3 linked regions of the Homo sapiens genome follow. The protein of the gene in region 3 purifies or fractionates together with the protein of the main gene of each other region. This does not show direct contact. Each region holds a gene or a part of one and is shown on either strand. Other genes may lie near its edges.

Evidence for each region. The genes of interacting proteins can lie anywhere in the genome.
Region 1: the proteins of PPM1E (region 3) and TRO purify together in Homo sapiens (affinity purification with mass spectrometry; 2 studies listed by BioGRID and IntAct, with this or other methods). This does not show direct contact.
Region 2: the proteins of PPM1E (region 3) and PSME3IP1 purify together in Homo sapiens (affinity purification with mass spectrometry; 2 studies listed by BioGRID and IntAct, with this or other methods). This does not show direct contact.

The regions. Positions count from the first base shown.
Region 1 is NC_000023.11:54,923,824-54,930,823, forward strand, and holds part of TRO (trophinin), read left to right. Parts: intron 1-627; coding exon 628-732; intron 733-846; coding exon 847-910; intron 911-1,165; coding exon 1,166-1,245; intron 1,246-1,768; coding exon 1,769-1,860; intron 1,861-2,586; coding exon 2,587-2,666; intron 2,667-2,759; coding exon 2,760-2,802; intron 2,803-3,219; coding exon 3,220-3,282; intron 3,283-3,481; exon of another isoform or gene 3,482-3,612; intron 3,613-3,843; coding exon 3,844-3,958; intron 3,959-4,779; coding exon 4,780-7,000. UniProt on the Homo sapiens protein: Could be involved with bystin and tastin in a cell adhesion molecule complex that mediates an initial attachment of the blastocyst to uterine epithelial cells at the time of the embryo implantation. Directly responsible for homophilic cell adhesion.
Region 2 is NC_000016.10:57,169,040-57,176,039, forward strand, and holds part of PSME3IP1 (PSME3-interacting protein), read right to left. Parts: exon of another isoform or gene 6,503-7,000; coding exon of another isoform or gene 6,500-6,502; intron 5,982-6,499; exon of another isoform or gene 5,679-5,981; coding exon of another isoform or gene 5,676-5,678; intron 5,650-5,675; exon of another isoform or gene 5,581-5,649; intron 5,567-5,580; exon of another isoform or gene 5,426-5,566; coding exon of another isoform or gene 5,402-5,425; intron 5,252-5,401; exon of another isoform or gene 5,130-5,251; intron 4,947-5,129; exon of another isoform or gene 4,925-4,946; intron 4,831-4,924; coding exon of another isoform or gene 4,816-4,830; coding exon 4,689-4,815; intron 3,836-4,688; coding exon 3,737-3,835; intron 3,334-3,736; coding exon 3,212-3,333; intron 1-3,211. UniProt on the Homo sapiens protein: Promotes the association of the proteasome activator complex subunit PSME3 with the 20S proteasome and regulates its activity.
Region 3 is NC_000017.11:58,968,828-58,975,927, reverse strand, and holds part of PPM1E (protein phosphatase 1E), read right to left. Parts: exon of another isoform or gene 6,390-7,100; coding exon 6,201-6,389; exon of another isoform or gene 5,899-6,200; coding exon of another isoform or gene 5,829-5,898; intron 3,797-5,828; coding exon 3,653-3,796; intron 3,097-3,652; coding exon 3,003-3,096; intron 1-3,002. UniProt on the Homo sapiens protein: Protein phosphatase that inactivates multifunctional CaM kinases such as CAMK4 and CAMK2. Dephosphorylates and inactivates PAK. May play a role in the inhibition of actin fiber stress breakdown and in morphological changes driven by TNK2/CDC42.

The DNA.
Region 1 (7,000 bases), on a different chromosome or scaffold from region 3:
TTCTAGTTTGTTCATTTCTTCTATAAAAGTTTTACTTTGAGCTAGTCCCTGTGTTCAGATAGGCTGTGGAAGATGCTGAGAAGAAGGTGATATAGTTTCTGCTCCCTAGCAGTTCACAGATTGGTGAGGAAATAAGACATCCATACACTCAGCTACAACCTGTATGTAATACTACTTGTATTTAAATAGTAGTTACCACGTGCCAGGCTTTGTGTTGGGTACAGTTACACAGGGTATGTCTGAATGTCTTGAAAGTAACTCTTACCAACAAGGGATCATAGGTCCCAGTTTTACACTTAAGAAAACTGAGTCTCAGAGAAATGAAGTGACTTGTCCAAGAGGTACCAGCCAGCATAATTGGTGGTAGCCAGAGGAAGAGAAAGACCCTTAGGCTCTTATCTTGAGTTGTTCCTGGCCTGGCAGAGGAACGAAACTCCTTCCTGGAAGACAGTGAAAGATAAGCTCAGGACTCAGGGTGGCCAATGGCAAGGTCAGGATCAGGCTCCACTACAGCAAGGCTGAGGGAGGGGGTTAGAGGGACTTTCTGTCTGGAGCAGGCAAGGTGAGGAGACAGAGCCATCTCTTTCACCTGGTGACTCTGGACCTTCCTTCTTTCTGATGATGAAGTCCAAGCATCTGAATGGGGATGAGAGAAGTGGCAGTAATTACAGGCGGATCCCATGGGGCCGGAGGCCTGCACCACCGCGAGATGTGGCCATTTTACAAGAAAGGGTAAGAATCCAATGCTGTCCAGTCTCTTCTCTTCTTCACTTGCCCTCTTCTCTGCCTCCTTCCAAGTTTTCTGCAAGCATGTTAAGATCTCTCCATCTATTCCTCTCCTCCCAGGCTAATAAGTTGGTGAAATACCTGTTGGTTAAGGACCAGACAAAGATCCCCATCAAACGCTCAGGTAGTGTCCTACCAACCCTCCTCCTTGAGCTCTCCTCTCCACTCCCCTCTCCTCCCATAGTCTGGGAGTAACACTTTATGGCCTCTTTGTTCTGTCATATCTCCACACCTGCCCTCCTTGCACTCTGCCATGGCTGGCATCTCCCATTAACTCACTTCAGGTCTCTGATTGCACTGACCCAACAGGACTGGCAAAAGGGCTGCAGCTCTGTGGCCCCTGCTAAGCTCAGCTACTCTCACCTCTCCTTTTCTACAGACATGCTGAGGGATGTCATCCAAGAATATGATGAATATTTCCCAGAAATCATTGAACGAGCAAGCTACACTCTGGAGAAGGTGAAGGGGCAGTGCTGGCGGATGGGCGCAATGGGGAAGCTTTGAATCGAGCAAAGACATACATGTCCCTTTTGGAGAGAATCACAGAAACATGCTAATCCAGCCCCATTACTGTGTGAATGGGCAGACAGTGGCCTAGGGAGAGGTGTAGATTTGCCATGGGTCACACAGCATGTCAGTGATGAAAACATGGCTAGGACAGAAGCCACTCAAATTAGTCTCAGCTTCTATTCATAGTTGGACATATTCTGCATGTATTTCAGATCTCACCTCTCCCTTGTATCCCCATTTTCTGTCTCCCTAGATTCCTGCTCATCACAAAGATGATGTTGATGACAATAGTACATTTGCTGTGTGTTTACTGGGTGCCAGGCACTTGGCTATGTGCTTTATGTGCATTATCTCACTGACTTCTTACACATGCAGACCCCCTAAGTACACTGGGAGTTTTAGGATGCCCGGAAAGTTCACTGATACCTAAGCTGAATTTTGTGATCTCACAGGCTATTCTTTTACTTGGCAGATGTTTCGAGTCAATCTGAAAGAAATTGATAAGCAAAGTAGCTTGTATATTCTCATCAGCACTCAGGAATCCTCTGCAGGCATACTGGGAACGTAAGCTGGGAAAGGGCTGGAGTGGGAAGGAAGCTTCTGCTTTTATCTGTGCTGCTACCCCTTCTTTGTCCTACTTCCCCCATCCTCTTAGAGAGTCAGGAAAAACAGGGTCTCAAAAGCCCTGTCTCAGCACCTGCACATAGTTGGAGCCCTGCTCACAGTAGTGGCACCTGATTATGATTGACTGAAGGGTATAGGAGCCTAGGGTGGGACATTCCTGCTGTCAGGTTTGCTGTCTCTGTAGAAGCTTCCCAGGAAAGCAGGCCTGTCATTGCTTGCCTCTTCCGATGGAGTGCCTGGCCTGGCTTTGACAGAGTGGTTCTCAAGGAGGGCTTCCTGGTGTGGCTGGATCAGTATGCATGAAGCGCAAGAGTGTCAGTGGGGCTGAAGGTTCTGGGAGAGAAAGAAGGGACTCACATTGACTGAGTGCTTGTGTTGTACCAGGTTGACAGCCATTCTTCCATCTTCTTGGCAACCTGAGGAAGGGAGAATATGATTTTCCCATTTTACTGAATAATAGACCAAGGCTTGCAAGGTCTAAGTGCCTTGCCCAGGGTGGCATAGAGCTGGAAGCAGAGACTGGGCAGAATTCTGTATCTGAGGAATCTGGGAGAGGTTAGCCTGGTGAGCTGGCTGGTGTATCTTTTGCGGATGGCTGCTGAAACATAAACCTTCTTTCTGTCCTGTTGAAACATAAACCTTCTTTCTGTCCTGTTATTCCCTTAGGACCAAGGACACACCCAAGCTGGGTCTCCTCATGGTGATTCTGAGTGTCATTTTTATGAATGGCAACAAGGCCAGTGAGGGTGAGTGGCTGGGCATGCAGCTGAATGGGCGGCCATGGTCTGGATTCCATGTGTTCAATTTCTGTCCCTGTCTCCTCTTGCCTCCCCTCACAGCTGTCATCTGGGAGGTGCTGCGCAAGTTGGGGCTGCGCCCTGGGTATGACTGGGCTCTCTCAGCGCTTGCTGTCCGTGTTGTCCTTTGGCAAGAGAGGATGGTCCTAGGATTGCATCAGTCTGGTGGTCTGGTGGAGCGGGTGGGGTGCTGGACTGGGTAGAGGGCCCAGGGTTCTGACCTGGGTGGATGACGGGCAAATGGTCCTGAACTCTCTGCTGTCTCTCTCCTTAATGTCCTCTGTCTGTTCTAAGCTGAGATGTTAGATAGACCTTCAGGGATCCCTGACAAAGAGGCATCTGGTCTTAACTGCTTGCTTCTAGTGGCCATGTGCTCATTACTTTCTTCACTTCATTGAGACTGCCCCATGTGCTAGAGAGGTCTCTTCCATGTTGGGAAATGCCTCTGCCCTCATCTGGGCAGTTCTGATCTGTGTTCATGGGTTATTTTTCCCATTGTCAGGGTGAGGCATTCACTCTTTGGGGAAGTGAGGAAGCTCATCACAGACGAGTTTGTGAAGCAGAAGTAAGTGGTGTTTGGGGCTTTGTCTGGCCCTGAAGTGTTCTGGGTATACTGATCTGGTTCAGAAAGTGCTTAGTCAGTGCCTTTCTTATACTAGCTTTAGAGGGATGGGCATCCTGTGTCCTAGAACTGATACTGTCTAAAATTCCCATGGGCAGACCTTTCCAGGACTGGGCCAGACTCAACACAAGGCCCTTGCAGTGGGGTGCGCTCAGAGCAGAGGGCCTTAAGAATGGCTCCTCTGTTTACAACACACCCAACAGGAATCTGGGCTTACTCCTCACAGGTGGCATGATACTTTGGCCTTCCTGTGACATCATGCCCTATACATGTCTCCCCTGGAGAAGCCCAAGGGACTGCTTTGCACAGGGCCAGTGGGAAATGGCTCAGTATTGGAGGCCAAGACCATAAACTGTGTTTGGTAGTGAGTCTGGGGCTGGAGGGTCTTAGAAATCCCTCTCCAGGGGCTGTTTGTATTTGTTTGGAGGAGGTTGCCACCTGGTGTCTAGTGCTTAGACAGCAGGGTTGCTTGGTTAGAAACAAGTTTCATTTCCTTTTTCCAAGGTACCTGGAGTACAAGAGGGTCCCTAACAGCAGACCACCTGAATATGAGTTCTTCTGGGGCTTGCGCTCCTACCACGAGACTAGCAAGATGAAAGTCCTCAAGTTTGCATGCAGGGTAAGAGGAGAGCTGCCCGAGCTTGGCATATTAAGGCAATGGGATACCCTTGGCTGGGGCAGGCAATGCACAGGGATGGGCAGGTACAGAGCAGCCTGCAGCTCATATATAAACATGTGGAGCCTCCTTTATGTCCCAGGGTGCTGCTAGATATATAGTTTACATCATCTCATTCATTCTTCATACTTTGTATTAATCAGCATGGGCTGCCATAACAAAATACCATAGACTGGGTGGATTAAAAAACAAATTTATTTTCTCATAGTTCTTGAGGGCGAGAATCCTAGGTCAGGGTCCACGAGGGTCAGTTCCTGTTGAAGGCTCTCTTCCTGGCTTGCAGATGGCTGCCTTCTTGCTGTGTCCTCACATGGCTTTGTGTGTGAGAGAGAAGAGAGCAAGCTTTCTGGTGTCTCTTCTTATAAGGACACTAATCCTGTTGATCAGGACCCCACCCTTATGGCCTCATTTAACCTTAATTATCTCCATAAAGGCCCTATCTCCAAGTACAATCACACTGGGTGTTAGGGATTCAACATACGAATTTGGGGGCGGGCACAACCCTTCAGTTCATAACATATTTACGCTCTATCATTTCCTGTAATTATAAAGACACTTAGGCTAAGTGAGGTTAAGTAACTTGTCCAAGGTCATATAGCACGTAAGTCAGCAGAGCTGAAACTGGAGTTCAGAACTGACCCATGATAGAGCCCCAATAACTGAGAAGTTTAAAAAAGTATTGCTACTAGTTTAATACAAAGCCCGTAGGTTAATACATGATTACTAGGGTTGTTTTCTTATTATGATTATCATCCCCATTTCAGGTGCAGAAGAAAGACCCCAAGGACTGGGCTGTGCAGTACCGCGAGGCAGTGGAGATGGAAGTCCAAGCTGCAGCTGTGGCTGTGGCTGAGGCTGAAGCCAGGGCTGAGGCAAGAGCCCAAATGGGGATTGGAGAGGAAGCTGTGGCTGGGCCCTGGAATTGGGATGACATGGATATCGACTGCCTAACAAGGGAAGAGTTAGGCGATGATGCTCAGGCCTGGAGCAGATTTTCATTTGAAATTGAGGCCAGAGCCCAAGAAAATGCAGATGCCAGCACCAACGTCAACTTCAGCAGAGGAGCTAGTACCAGGGCTGGCTTCAGCGATGGTGCTAGTATTAGCTTCAATGGTGCACCCAGCTCCAGTGGTGGCTTCAGTGGTGGACCTGGCATTACCTTTGGTGTTGCACCCAGCACCAGTGCCAGCTTCAGCAATACAGCCAGCATTAGCTTTGGTGGTACACTGAGCACTAGCTCCAGCTTCAGCAGCGCAGCCAGCATTAGCTTTGGTTGTGCACACAGCACCAGCACTAGTTTCAGCAGTGAAGCCAGCATTAGCTTTGGTGGCATGCCTTGTACCAGTGCCAGCTTTAGTGGTGGAGTCAGCTCTAGTTTTAGTGGCCCACTCAGCACCAGTGCCACTTTCAGTGGTGGAGCCAGCTCTGGCTTTGGAGGCACACTCAGCACCACGGCTGGCTTTAGTGGTGTACTCAGCACTAGCACCAGCTTTGGCAGTGCACCCACAACGAGCACAGTCTTCAGTAGTGCGCTTAGCACCAGCACTGGCTTTGGAGGCATACTCAGCACCAGTGTCTGTTTTGGTGGCTCTCCCAGCTCCAGTGGTAGCTTTGGTGGTACACTCAGTACCAGTATCTGCTTCGGTGGCTCTCCCTGCACCAGCACTGGCTTTGGAGGCACACTTAGCACCAGTGTCTCCTTTGGTGGCTCTTCCAGCACCAGTGCCAATTTTGGTGGTACACTAAGTACCAGCATCTGCTTTGATGGCTCTCCCAGCACTGGTGCTGGCTTTGGTGGTGCTCTCAACACCAGTGCCAGCTTTGGCAGTGTGCTCAACACCAGTACTGGTTTTGGTGGTGCTATGAGCACCAGTGCTGACTTTGGCGGTACACTAAGCACCAGTGTCTGCTTTGGTGGCTCTCCTGGCACCAGTGTCAGCTTTGGCAGTGCACTCAACACCAATGCTGGTTATGGTGGTGCTGTCAGCACCAACACTGACTTTGGTGGTACACTAAGCACCAGCGTCTGTTTTGGTGGCTCTCCCAGCACCAGTGCTGGCTTTGGTGGTGCACTCAACACCAATGCCAGCTTTGGCTGTGCCGTCAGCACCAGTGCCAGCTTCAGTGGTGCTGTCAGCACCAGTGCTTGCTTCAGTGGTGCACCAATCACCAACCCTGGCTTTGGCGGTGCATTTAGCACCAGTGCTGGCTTCGGTGGGGCACTTAGTACCGCTGCTGACTTCGGTGGTACTCCCAGCAACAGCATTGGCTTTGGTGCTGCTCCCAGCACCAGTGTCAGCTTTGGTGGTGCTCATGGCACCAGCCTCTGTTTTGGTGGAGCTCCCAGCACCAGCCTCTGCTTTGGCAGTGCATCTAATACTAACCTATGCTTTGGTGGCCCTCCTAGCACCAGTGCCTGCTTTAGTGGTGCTACCAGCCCTAGTTTTTGTGATGGACCCAGCACCAGTACCGGTTTCAGCTTTGGCAATGGGTTAAGCACCAATGCTGGATTTGGTGGTGGACTGAACACCAGTGCTGGCTTTGGTGGTGGCCTAGGCACCAGTGCTGGCTTCAGTGGTGGCCTAAGCACAAGTTCTGGCTTTGATGGTGGGCTAGGTACCAGCGCTGGCTTCGGTGGAGGACCAGGCACCAGCACTGGTTTTGGTGGTGGACTGGGCACCAGTGCTGGCTTCAGTGGCGGACTGGGCACCAGTGCTGGCTTTGGTGGTGGACTGGTCACTAGTGATGGCTTTGGTGGTGGACTGGGCACCAATGCTAGTTTCGGCAGCACACTTGGCACCAGTGCTGGCTTTAGTGGTGGCCTCAGCACCAGCGATGGCTTTGGCAGTAGGCCTAATGCCAGCTTCGACAGAGGACTGAGTACCATCATTGGCTTTGGCAGTGGTTCCAACACCAGCACTGGCTTTACTGGCGAACCCAGCACCAGCACGGGCTTCAGTAGTGGACCCAGTTCTATTGTTGGCT
Region 2 (7,000 bases), on a different chromosome or scaffold from region 3:
TTATTCTTTTGAAATGAAGAAAAGTCCTAACCTTTTAGGGGTAGGGGGTGTTAATAATCTTATTTTTGATCCGCAAAGTACAAGCAATTTTTCCTTCTTAAGCCCCTCTTCTCCCAAAATGCTTTAAAAACACAAACACACCTCAAAAATCTCAAGAAATTCATTAGATCAGCATTCTCTTAAAATTGCACCGTTTTTTAACATACACAATACTGCTAAATACTGGTTTAACCTGAGACGAAACAAGAGTTCTGTTATTTACATGGTTTAAACCACAGCTTATTTGTATTCAGAAGTATCCTATTATACAACATATCATATAGTAATCAAGCAAAGCCTAGAAACAGTTCCTAACTTAGAGCTTCAATAAACAAATGTCTAATCCTTCAATTCCTATCTCAACATGTCTCTGGCTACTTGCATGCTTGGGATTAGTGTATTAGATGTCAGTGACTTGGAAGGCCTGCTTTTCTTCAGTTTTTCTAGACAGAACTTTCCAAGTTTCCAGTTAAAGCCCTTATCCCTGGAGCCTCATTGTACTGCAATGTTACCAGGACACAAAGGTTTCTTTTGTCTCACTGCTGCCCTGTTCATTCTTTCCTTTTAATTGAAAACCAAAGGGCATCTCACACTCAACAGCACTTCTCCCCAGATGCTACTTTGGGGGACACTATATGTCTTATTTGCTAGTCTACCAAAATAAAACATAATATCATTCAAGTGAGAAGTGTAATGAATGTATTTCCTTAGAGGAAAAAGCTTGGTGTCTGAAACAACACAATATGGGTATCTGCCTATCTCTACAAACGAACACATATTATTTTGGGGTCATCAGGGTCAGGGAAGGGGGAGTTCAGAATAATCAGCCTCAATCCTACAGTTGAGATTGAGGTATAACTTCCCATGAGCTTCCATCTCCATGTTGCACCTGAATGCCAGTAACAGAACTGGGACTGGAAGCCAGGTCTTTTCCTACCAGTTCTGATGTAAATCAATTCCCAGGGAATCAGGGAATCTGTCCATGTCTTCTCCCATACAACGCTTTTTTTTTTTTTTTTTTTTAAGATAAAGTCTTGCTCTGTCCCCAGCCTGGAGTACAGTGGCGTGACCTTGGCGCACTGCAATCTCCACCTTCCAGGTTCAAGCGATTCTCCTGCCTCAGCCTCCTGAGTAGTTGGGACTACAGGCACAAGCCACCATGCCCGGCTAATTTTTGTATTTTTAGCAGAGACAGGGTTTCACCATTTTGGCCAGGCTGGTCTCAAACTCCTGACCTCAAGCGATCCTCCTGCCTCGGCCTCCCAAAGTGCTGGAATCAAAGGCGTGAGCCACTGTGTCCAGGCCTCCCACGTAACTCTTAAAATGGAATGTGCTGCACATTCTCTGCAAGAAAATACCAACTAGTACATATACACAGTAATGTCGTCCATCTTAGACGTGAAGCCTGTTGGATTACACCAGTGATGTTACTCAACATATAAGCTTGAAATATCCAAATAAGCTTCCTCACATGAAGATAAATGGTCCTATTAATATCTCCTATGAATCATTTATTAATTTATTCACATATTTACTGAGAATCTACTATATGCCAGGCACTGGAGAAATCAGAAGTGACCAAGTCAGATAGTCTTTTTTCTTATGGAGCTCATTTACTTTACATTCTAGCAGGAAAGAGATAAACAAACCAGTAGGCAAATAAATAAAGACAACTTTCAGATAGTGACAAATCTATAAAAAATGATATTACTTGCTGGGTGCGGTGGCTTACGCCTGTAATCCCTGCACTTTGGGATGCTGGAGTGGGCGGATCACCTGAGGTAACGAGTTCGAGACCAGCCTGACCAATATGATGAAACCTCGTCTCTACTAAAAATACAAGAATTAGCTGGGCGTGGTGGCATGCACCTGTAACCCCAGCTACTTGGGAGGCTGAGACAGGAGAATCGCTTGAACCCGGGAGGCGGAGGTTGCAGTGAGACGAGATCGCGCCACTGCAGTCCAGCCTGGGCAACAAGAGAGAAACTCCATCTCAAAAAAAAAAATTGATATTACCGACAGCAATTTTAGGTGGGGTGCTTAGGGAAGGTTTCTAAAAGGGAGAGCTGAGCAGAGGGCTGAGCTGTGAAATGCATCTTGCAAAATCTGAGGGCAGAACATTTTGGGCTGAGGAAACAGCAAGTCTGAGGCCCTGAGATTGACTCAGAAAGCATGGTGAAAGAGAACATAAAGAAGGCCAGCAGGCTGCAGTACAGTCAACATGAGAAAGAGTGGCTTCAAGATGCAAGAAGGAGGCGGGTTGGCCTAAATAATGTAGAACCTTCTACGGCCTGATACAGAGTAAGACTTTAGTCTAAATGTAAGGGGAACCCACTAGACTGTTTCAAATAGAAAAGTGACATGATGCCATGTATGGTTTTTAAAGTTCCCTTTCTTGTCTAAGGAATAGATTATTGAGGATGAGAGCAGAAACAAACCAATTAGATGGTCACAGGAGTCGAGAAGAAAGTCTACTACTACTACAGTAGCAGTAGATACCAACAATTCAAGAGATTTGGAGTACGTTTTGGAAACAGTTCTTGGCCCAGGCACCTGGAGGCATAGGACTACCAGTTACTGGGACTGGGAGGACCAGAAAAAGAAGAGACTTTGGGGAAGGGCAGTGTGATGAGAGTGGGGGTGATGTGGCACAGTATTGAGAATTTTGATTCAGCCAAGTTTCATTTGGGATGTCTATGAAGACATTCAAGTGGATGACCAAAAGGCAACACTGATCTAGAGCAAAGTCATCTTTGCTGCTTTCTCAGCCCTTCTATCAGGACAGGGCATGCTATACCACTAGAGAACATCTTACTAAGAATATAGGAAAGTTGCTAAACATGTTCTTTTAAAACTCAGAGCCCAATTTCTCCCCTGGATGAAGCTGACTGCACTGCCCACCTGTGTCAGAATCTAATCCCAGTACTAGTAGGATTGATGCCTTGAGTTAACCCTAAGAAGGATGTGGACTTTTGACTATAACACTCTTGCACACAACACAAACTCCACAAACCACTACCAGCTTTTCAGAATTACAGGAATATCAGTGTTCAAAGGGACTTGAGAGATCACCAGGTAGAAAACCCTCTTTCTGTTGATGAGGAGACAACATCCATAGATGCTGATGAGAAAATGGACACCTTACAGGTTTTCCTCCAAGTACAAAGGATATTCTGTATTCCTTCAGTTCTTTCAGTTCTTCTTCTCTTCGTTGCTTTTCTATTAGTTCCTGCTGTCGAGAAACCTCATCAAGGAAGTTGGTCTCATCTTCATCTAAGCCTCTTACCATGTTTTCTGAGGAAATAATTAAACAAGGCACACTTAGCAGGCTAAAGGGAAAAATAAGATTTTTCCTTTCCCCTTTTTAAATAAGCAGCAGATTCTTCAGGGGATTAAAAAAAAAAGAACTGGTAAATACCATGGCGTTTGAATAGATAACAGGGCATAAAAAAAAACAAGGCATTTTTTCCCATTACTAAATATTACCATAGAATTAAAATGGGTGTTTTGAGCTCTAAACAAAAATATTCAATGTGGTCTAGAAGGCTGAAGGCTGTCTCTTTTCCACCAAATAAGCATCCGGAGACTCGAAAATCAAGACAATTCCACGGCTAGTTAGGAAAAGTGCTGCACAAGGCAAAAGTGCGTCAAAAGTACCCCACAGAGCCCCTTGAACTCTCTGTTTTCTGAAGCTTACTGAATTTGAACTGTTCCTCGTACTCCTGCTGCTTCCTGTCCTTCTGTTCCTGTAGCCTTTCATATAGAGATCGAGGGTCATAAACCTCCTCTGGACATTCTGAAAGGAAAAGGAGAGGGGAGAGAGGTGGACGGGGAGGAGATATACACTTCAGATTGTTTTCATATTATTTTGGAATCACAAAAGGTTTTAAAGACAAAGTCAAGTCTCTGCATGATCTGAGGGTGTGGATAACACAAAAATAGTACAAAGTCCAGTTTCCCTTTGGACCTCAGAGAGGGGCCACCAGTTCTCAAAGCCAACTATCAATGTCAATAGCGCCCATGGCCTGAGACAGTTAACTGATTGAGGGGCCAGCCCAAACCCTCCACAGCAGCAGTGTTCTCAGTTGTTCAGACCATGGATCCACCTGTATAGATGGAGGAGAGGAGCAGAATCTCTTGGAAGGAAGTGTGGTAGGCAGAAAAGAAGCAGGATGTGAGTATGCTGGCTCTGCTCCCAGCTGTGCAGGACCTTACATAGGTGACTTCGCCCCTGAGTCTCAGTTCCTCAACTCTAAAGTATGGACAATTGGCCAGGCATGGTGGCTCACACCTGTAATCCCAGCACTTTGGGAGGCCGAGGCAGGAGGATGGCTTGAGCTCAGGAGTTTGGAACCAGCCTGGCCAACAGATGAAACTCCATCTCTACCAAAAATACAAAAATTAGCCAGGCGTGGTGGCTGGTGCCTGTAATCCCAACTACTCGGAAGGCTAAGGCAGGAGAATCTCCTGAGCCTGGGAGGCAGAGGTTGCAGTGAGCCAAGATCGCGCCACTGCACTCCAGCCTGGGCAACAGAGTGAGACTCCGTCTCAAAAAAATAAATAAATAAAACCAAGTGAGGACAATTAATACCTACTCTGCAGGGTTGCTGTGTGGATTAAAGACCATTATACTGACTGTCACAGTATACCTTCTGGATCTTCAGGTTTTCGAACTTTCTCCCATTCTTCTTGCCTCCTTTTGCGCCGTTCATCTAGTTCTGCCTCAGACACAAACCTCTTTTTGATAATAAGGTTACCATCATCCCCTCCATCCATAATGAAACAACCAATCTACAAAACAAAAACAAAAACAAAAAAAATCATTTCAAGTGAGAACTGCAATTAAAATTCTAAAGAGAAACAAGGAGATTTAGCTCCATCTCACCCAGCAACAAACTAAAAATTATCTTCCAACTTTGAATTGAAAAAATTCTCGGCCGGGTGCGGTGGCTCATGCCTGTAATCCTGGCACTTTGGGAGGCCGAGGCGCATGGATCACGAGGTCAGGAGTTCAAGACCATCCTGACTGACATGGTGAAACCCCGTCTCTACTAAAAATACAAAAATTAGCCAGGCACGGTGGCACGCACCTGTAATCCCAGCTACTCAGGAGGCTGAGGCAGGAGAATCGCTTGAACCTGGGAGGCGGAGGTTGCAGTGAGCCAAGATCACACCGCTGCACCCCAGCTTGAGCGACAGGGCAAGATTCTGTCTCAAAAAAAAAAAAAACTCTCAAATAGTTTAATTTATAGGCCATTGATGAAAGCACATGAATACATTTTTCCTGACATATCAGAGAATTTTTATTAACATCGATGTTATCTACACAGTTGGCAAGAGGACCTGGGATAATTCTTATTACCTGGTGTTCCATAGTAAATCTCATATTGCAGCTATTTCTCTGTCCCTCTAATCTAGAAAAATTGGCCTCCTGAGCATCCCATCCTTTTCCCAGCTCTCATCCTCCTTTATTTCTGTAACATCTGACATTGTTTCTTCTTGAAATTCCTGTTTCTGAGACATTACACTATCTTGATTCACCTGCTCTTGCCTCCAAGTAGATTAAGATGGAGAATCTCAGCTATTGAAGACTTAGTGTTCAAGTCCAGTCTGTATAGCAGGGAAGGTGCACAAACCATGAATGGAGAAAGTGAGACTGGAAGAACAGATCTCCCAACTTCAGTTCCACGTACTTTCCTGAATACTAATCTGACTCTTCATTTATATCTCTTCTGACCTTCCTCCCTGTAAACCCCTTGTCTGTGCCATTTAAGATTTGAACTTCAATCCTTCTCTTTTCTCACTCCCACAATCACCTCAACCATTTTATGCATATTTTGACACAGAAGATTACCGAATCTGTTATTTCTACCTGAGCTTTTCTTCAAAGAGGAGAGAAGGAAATAAAGATAGCAGAGTGTATATTACTTATTACTCCTTTTTTTTTTTTTTTTGAGATGAAGTCTCGTTCTGTCACCCAAGCTGGAGTCCAGTGGTGCAATCTCAGCTCACTGCAACCTCCGCCTCCCAGGTTCAAGCGATTCTCCTGCCTCCGCCTCCTGACTAGCTGGGACTACAGGCGTGTGCCAACACGCCCAGCTAATTTTTGAATTTTTAGTAGAGATGGGGTTTCACTATGTTGGCCAGGCTTGTCTCGAACTCCTGAACTCGTGATCTGCCCGCCTAGGCCTCCCAAAGTGCTGGGATTACAGGGGTGAGCCACCGCACCTGGCCATATTACTCCTTTTAAACTAAACCTCTGTTTTTCTTTATTGGTTTCTTTCCTTTTGAGTAACTGTGGAATTAACCCCTACCCAGACATGTTATTCACAGCACTATGTGCTAACAAGGAGGCACATATTCAATCCAATGTCCATTCCAAGATAACCACTAACAACAAAAACAGTAAGTTTCCACGCTACCACAAAAATAAAGCAGCTAACAGTTAATGAGCTCTTACCATGTATTATATTCCTTTTATGGATATTATCTAATTTACATGATCATTGACCCTATGAGAAATATTATCTGTTTACAGATGAAGTTGAGGTCCAGAGGAGTTAGATTATTTGTCTAAGGTGATACAGGTGGTGAATGGTAGAGCTGAGAACCAAATCCAGGCCTGATATCAAAAATGCATACTCTTACCAACTTTACCATACTCCTCCCCAGAAAACACTAAATCTTAGTTGAAAACAAAGACATGTCGACTTCAGCTTTCTTCCTACTTCAAATTCCAGTGCTGAGAATATTCATGCAACATTTTTATTTAGTAAAGCTAGAAATGGAAGCTGAAAAAACAAACCCAAACGTTCAGAACAAGAGAATAGTCTCAGCCTGAATACTACTGTTGCTGAGGTTTAGTTTAATGTAACAATAAGAGCGAATTGTGAAAATTACTAGAAAGAAATGAAATCAACTGACAGACGCTGTTGCTCCCACCTAAAGCCCACAACCTGGA
Region 3 (7,100 bases):
CCAACCAATCCATCTCATCAGTTGATACCCTCCTCCATATTCCTTTTTAGCTCTCCTCATCTCTGTAACAAACTGTATGAATGTCTCCCAGCCAGGCTCTTTCTACTCTAGCCCAGCTTCCATACAAATATCTTTATAAATACAAAGCTGACCCTGTGGCCCCTCTGCGTATTCACCTGGTAAAGTCCAGACTACTTAGCCTCGCACATAAGGCCCTTTGCAATCTGGCACCAACACTGCTAATCTACCACTCCCATCTCTGCTCTAACCTCCTGGACTTGTTGCTTTTCCTAAAACATGCCATGCCTTTTCAAACCCCTGTGTATTTATATTTCCCTCTACCTGTGTAGGGATTTCCTTCCCAGCACATTATCCTCCACATTCAACTCAAAAGTCACTCTATGTATGAAGTCTCCCTTATCCACTCTTAGATTGTTTATTTTTTATTATTAAAATAGAGATGAGGTATCACTATGTTGCCCAGGTTGGTCTCAAAATCCTGGGCTCAGGCATTCCTCCCTCCTTGGCCTTCCACAGTGCTGGCTGCCATACCCAGCCTTTTCTCTGAGATTGTCACTTATTAAGGGACATTCTTCCCTGCTTTGGTTTTCCCTTTTAGAAGAAGAAGCTGGTATTCTCTATTAAGTTAGTTCTGTAACAAGTATTAAAGATGATCCTCAATCCTCTGACAAAGGTCAGATCAGGAGAAATAGGTGTTTGGTTTGAGTTGTAAACCTAATTCACTGGCCACTCAAGCACTCATATAATGATCATTAACGTAAATTGGTTCCACAGATAGTATAGTCCTCTGGTTCGGTGATTTTCAGTCAAGGGTAGCATTTGATGGGTAGTGGGTCCTGCTAAACCTACAATGTGCATGATAAAGACTTTTCCCCACCAATAATAATAATAATAATTCCATATAAGGGTATATTTTAGAAATGAGACATTTCCCCTTTTTGGCCTTATTCTAGAGTTCCTAATAATTCCCTCCAGTCTAAGGTCAAGCCAAATCTCAATTTTTCAGGAGGTATTTGTAGACTCTTTTAGCTATTTCTCTTTCAGCTTTCTACTCATATTTGGGCCACTTCACAGCTTGCTAGCACCTTCCCAAAGAGTGGGAGGAACTCAAATCAGTGGTGAAAGCTAAATCCTTTCAGATTTTCTTCATGTTCTGGAATTTTTGGTAATTTTTAACTAAATTTTGAGACTAGATGTGAATTCCAACCATGTCTAATTACTTCATTTCTTTAGGGAAGCAGAGATTAAAAACTGCAGTATACATGTAATGTACATATCACCCATATAGATATACATATTGATTTATTCTTTTTTAAAAAAACAGGAAGTGAAGCTAAGCCATGAAGCCTAAAATAATAAACCCAGGGCCCAAAGTGAGACAAAGACAGAAATAGCTTAATTCTTTGAACTTATACCCTTGTATTTTGTCCAGCCAACTTAGCTGTTTAATCTCTACGTTTTAGACCGAGTTTCATTGACTTTCCCTTCTTTTGAAAAATTTAAGTCCCAGGGATATAGGGTTCTTTGAAACTCCAGGGTTATCTGACAGGTGACTGTATTCCACATACAGAAAGTAGTTTTCATATAAAAAGCACAATGCTTTTCCTATCAACTTATTCTGTTATTTATGTCATTTTAAAATTCATGGAAATAATTTAGAGGCATAAACAAAATGAATGTGGATAAAATACGGAGAAAGGCTTCCATTCTCTGAAAAATACTGATTTGACCCAAAATGCAATGAAATGAGAAACACTATGATTTTTTGTTTTTGTTTTAAGACAGGATCTCACTCCCTTGGCCCAGGCTGGAGTGCAGTGGCACAATCTTGGCTCACTGCAGCCTCAAACTCCTGGACTCAAGCAATCCTTCCGCCTCAGCCTCCTGTGTACTAGGACTACAGGCACAAGCCACTACGCCCAGCAATTTTTTTTTTTTTTTTTTTTTTTTTTTTTGAGATGGAGTCTCGCTCTGTCGCCCAGCCTGGAGCGCAGTGGCGCGATCTCGACTCACTGCAACCTCCGCCTCCCAGATTCAAGTGATTCTCCTGCCTCAACCTCCCAAGTAGCTGGGACTACAGACGTGTGCCACAACACCCAGCTAATTTTTTATATTTTTAGTAGAGACGGGGATTCATCGTGTTAGCCAGGATGGTCTCCATCTCCTGACCTCATGATCTGCCCACCTCAGCCTCCCAAAGTGCTGGGAATACAGGCGTGACCCACTGCGCCCGGCCTTTGTTTTTTTTGTTTTTTGTTTTTTTAAGAGATGAAGTCTTACTATGTTGCCCAGGCTGGTCTTTAACTCCTGGGCTCAAACCCTCTTCAGCCTCCCAAAGTGCTGGGATTACAGGCGTGAGCCACTGTGCCTGTCCCAACCACTGTGGTTTGAAGCAGATTTGGGTACTGATTAAAGGCTTCCATAAAATTTTAAATGTATAGAAACTAGAAAATTCTGCATTTCTTGATATGGTTCTCTTTTTTTTTTTTTTTGAGACAGTCTCACACTGTCACCCAGGCTGGCGTGCAATGGCGCGATCTCCACTAGCTGCAACCTCTGCTTCCCAGGTTCAAGCAATATTCCTGCCTCAGCCTCCCAAGTAGCTGGGATTACAGGCGCCCGCCACCACGCCTGGCTAATTTTTTGTATTTTTAATAGAGATGGGGTTTCACTATGTTGGCCAGGCTGGTCTTGAACTCCTGACCTCGTGATACACCCGCCTCGGCCTCCCAAAGTGTTGGGATTACAGGCATGAGCCACTGAGCCTGGCAGTTCTCTTTCAATAATGGAATTTAAGTATATAAATGTACAGGTTTAACTAAATCAAACAATTAAAAGAGACGTTATCCAATTATTATTTTAAAGAATAATAAGCATTCTGGTAACATAAATTATCATCTCAGGTTCCCTGTATCAGAGTTGATACAGGAGAATGAGCTAGAAGAGGACAGTTTGGAGAAACAAAAATTTGTTTTTCCTACCAATAGCTCTGGAAACCGACAGACTTCCATTCACCCTCCAGGCACCAAACCAGACTACGCAACCTCCAAGGGCCTCAATTCTCTGCTTTTCATCCTAAACAGCAATGCAATAAAAAGAAGCAAATAACTGGATTCAGGATTTATTCATTTACTTTAACAGTAAACAACAGATATAATACTCATCAGCTCATGAAAAGGTTCTCTTTGTTTCTCCATTGGAGGGTGGGCACAGTTGCTGATGTGATAGCAATAATTGTAATAATTAAGTGAATCCTGGCCGGGCGCGGTGGCTCACGCCTATAATCCCAGTACTTTGGGAGGCCGAAGCAGGCAGATCACCTGAAGTCAGGAGTTCAAGACCAGCCTGGCCAACATGGTGAAACCCCGTCTCTACTAAAAATACAAAAATTAGCTGGGCGTGGTGGCACATGCCTGTAATCCCAGCTACTCGGGAGGCTGAGGCAGGAGAATCGCTTGAACCCAGGAGGCGGAGGTTGCAGTGAGCCAAGATCACACCATTGCACTCCAGCCTGGGCAACAGAGTGAAACTCCATCTCAAAAAAAAAAAAAGTAAGTGAATCCTAATCAATAACTAGAAAATCTAAACTAATAACTAGAGCATGGGCTCTATTAAAACAGACCATACTTACCTCTCTGTCTGGTTTGTGTGGCTTCATTAGTTCAACAGCTTGGCCCTTTCTCACAAGCATAACCTGGGAATCACCCACCCAGGCCACATGTAGCATGTTGCCTCTGATGAAAGTCACCACTCCTGTGGTCCCACATCTTAAGCTCTGAAAACAGTTTAAATAAAACTAGACTCAGTGAAAAGAAATAGATACTACATTCTTATTGAGAAGCAATTTATAATTAAGCTTTTCAGCTGGGAGCTATACTATTAATAATGGAATTTCACACATATATAATAATTCATTGTCTCAATGCATTTGTATATGCATGTATGTATTTATGTGTATATACACACATAAGTCCACCTGATCTGTGATATGCAGGGCGAGGATGATTATTAATTCCACTTTAAATATAGATAAGAAAACTATGGCAGGTTATGTGACTTGCCCAAGGGCAGGTAACTATTAGTATATAAGACAGAATTGAAATTCTTTTTCCTCCCAGTCAAGCACTAAATCCTCTATACCAATCCTCAGAGTAAAAATTTCTATATTCTGCTCTCCATTTCATTACTGACATCGTATTTGTTCAGTGGGAGAGTCCTAGCTGTATAAAATGATATATAAAACATCTGATTGGTACACAACAGATGCTCTAATCTCTGGAAATTAAGCTAAGGGGCCAAGAGACAGCTTACGTTCCCTGGAGTACTAAGATGCTTATACCTTTAAAAAAATATCCTTCCTACAGTATTTTTAGGGGTCTTTGCTTTTGGAACATTGCATAAAGAACTAACAGCCTGGAATTTCACTGCAGTAGCTACGACTGTACTTAAAGCTCTTGGTCCTACTATACGAAAATGACATCCCCATTTGACATGAGTCACCACCAAATGAGCATGACTTTCTGTTACTAAGGACCTGGCCTAAATTAGAACCAATGCGTCAGGGGTGGTAAAAGGTCTCTTGTATCCAATGAGAAAAACAACTTCTCGTTTTCCCTATATAGGGAAAGTTTGTTATAAATCCTCACCCACCAATAAAATGTCTTCCCACACAGAATGTTCAAAAACTCAGCCCCCTAGAACACATGATAAACACACTTCAGTGCATATGCCCTGGAGAGAACAGGAGGCAGGGCTGCTTCATAACAGGAATAGCTGTTTTCTTCCCAGCAGTTAGCAGCACATGGAAGCATAAGAAGGAGAAAAGGGGCGCTGAGACAAACCTAAATTATTCAGAACTATTGGCAGAACTGAGAGACACCAGGGTCACTGACAAAACAAATGAGGTAAACATGGTCAGAAAACAACAACAACAACAACAACACATAATTTTGAGAAGACAGAGGAAAAAAAGAATAGAATAGAGGATGAAGAAGACAGAGTGAATCTCTTTGTTTCACATTGATGATTACGGGTCACCTCTCAGGGGCCGGCCCTTGTCCTCGACTCAGATGATAAAAGCCCACAGCTTCAAGAGAGGCAGAGCCAAGCAGAATGCAGGTCCTCAAGAGACTGGAGCTCTGAGGTCAAGAGTGGCTTTATTCTCCAGACCCACCTCTTTGTGTGGACTCTACTGGTTACTGTTGGATTTGCATATTAATCCAAACTTAGGGGAGGGGAGAGATGAAGAATAATTCTCTTTCTTAATACCAAATAGGTCTGAGTTATTGTTTCATTAATTCTAAGCCCCATTATTGCTTGTAGCATAACTATGCTATCAAAAAATGGATTAAATGATTACCCTGATCTCTCCAAGCCCATTTTAAAAAGAGTTAATGTTTAAGTCACAGGGCAGGAGTCTTATTTTTTGTCTGTATCTACTTCTGTAATTATTTTTAAAAATTAAAAATTCTTTTATTCGTCCCCAGTTAAAAATCCAATATAGAACACTGTAGTTAATTATGTACCAATACCCAGAACGATAATTAGATTAATTTTTTTACTTTTAGACCTTAATATAGAGCCCTTGCCATTTATTCAAAGTAAAAAAAACTTAGGTCTGATTAACCTTCGCAATGTAGGACATGAGCTCTTCTTTTCTCCCTATTAAGAGAAAAATCAGCTCAAGGATCATTTAAGGATTCACCCTCTCCAAGCGAATTTTCCCTCAAGAGATACACAGCAAAACACTGCCTACCCATTTAGAACCAAATGTATGGAAGTAATCCCAGTTTCTGTTTCTTTTTTAGACCATTGTTTTATTCACCATATCCAGATCTTGTCAGCAAGAGTCTGCTTAGAGAGATGGTCCTGGTGTGAACCTGACAGGCAATGGTGAATAAAAGAAAGATGAAACTCACCTGCCAAATCCAGCAGTTATTACAGAAATGAATCCAGAAAATTACAGCTTGAGATTTTCTATACAGTACCTCATTGTACCCCCTGAAACTCTTCCTGAGGAGGGAATTGGAACTACAACAGAATCCAATACTGTGAGTCAAGAATACAGTTTGGATAATGTCTGCCCAGAAAGAGAAAATCTAAATAGCCCTTTAACCACACAGACCAAATTGAGCTCAGCTAGTACATTTCTAGCTGGAACTTATGAGAAAGGGGCATACCTCCCTGGCTGCTTTCTGCACAAACCGCTCATCAGTGACCCGGAAGGCCCTGCACAGGGCCTCAGCAGGATCATGGGGGAACATCTCCTGGCGGACTAAGTTAACGTGGAGGTGAATGGAGGCATAAATAGCAGCATCTACTCCCCCATGGCCATCAAACACTGCAAAGTAAGCTTGTTCTTCCTGGTCCTGTCAACAGAAACACAGAACAGTTATGGGAGTTGGGTATAGCATGATTCAAATGAACCAATCTCCTGGCATCATTGTTGCCCATCCTTTCTCCTCCACTGCATTTGTCATTCAGAATAATGAGACTAAATGTTTTCCTTCTCTAACATGCCTGATCAACTGCTGAAATACCTGCAATATTAGGGTATCTGTGTTTACACACCAGAACACTGGAACATGTCATGCCCAATTAGCTCAAGCTGAAGTGCCCTCTCTCTGTGAAAGTTGTTGTCTTGTACCATGGAAACCACCCACGTACATTTGCTTCAAAATTGCTGTTACAAGTTGGGGGAGGGGGGATAGGGAGGGTATGAGAAGGAATTGAACAAAAGCAGCTCCAGATTGAGTGATTTTTTTCAAAATGAAAGTACTTTAATAGCAAAATTAGAACCTGAGAACAATAGAAAATAACTGGTCTTCCAACACAAGGCCAATTAAATCAAGTTTAAAATATATAAAGATATGAAAGCATAAACATACTTCTAAACTATAATACCTTCTTCATAAATCATTCCCAGTCACACTGCATTCTCACCACAAATAGCACAGCATCTCTAAACTAGTTTACCAAACTTGAACCACATCAGATGCTCAAATGCCCTGTGCGGCTGACCACTTTGCCTCACCCCATGATCTAAGATTTTAGTTTCACATTTCCTTGCAAAGTAAACT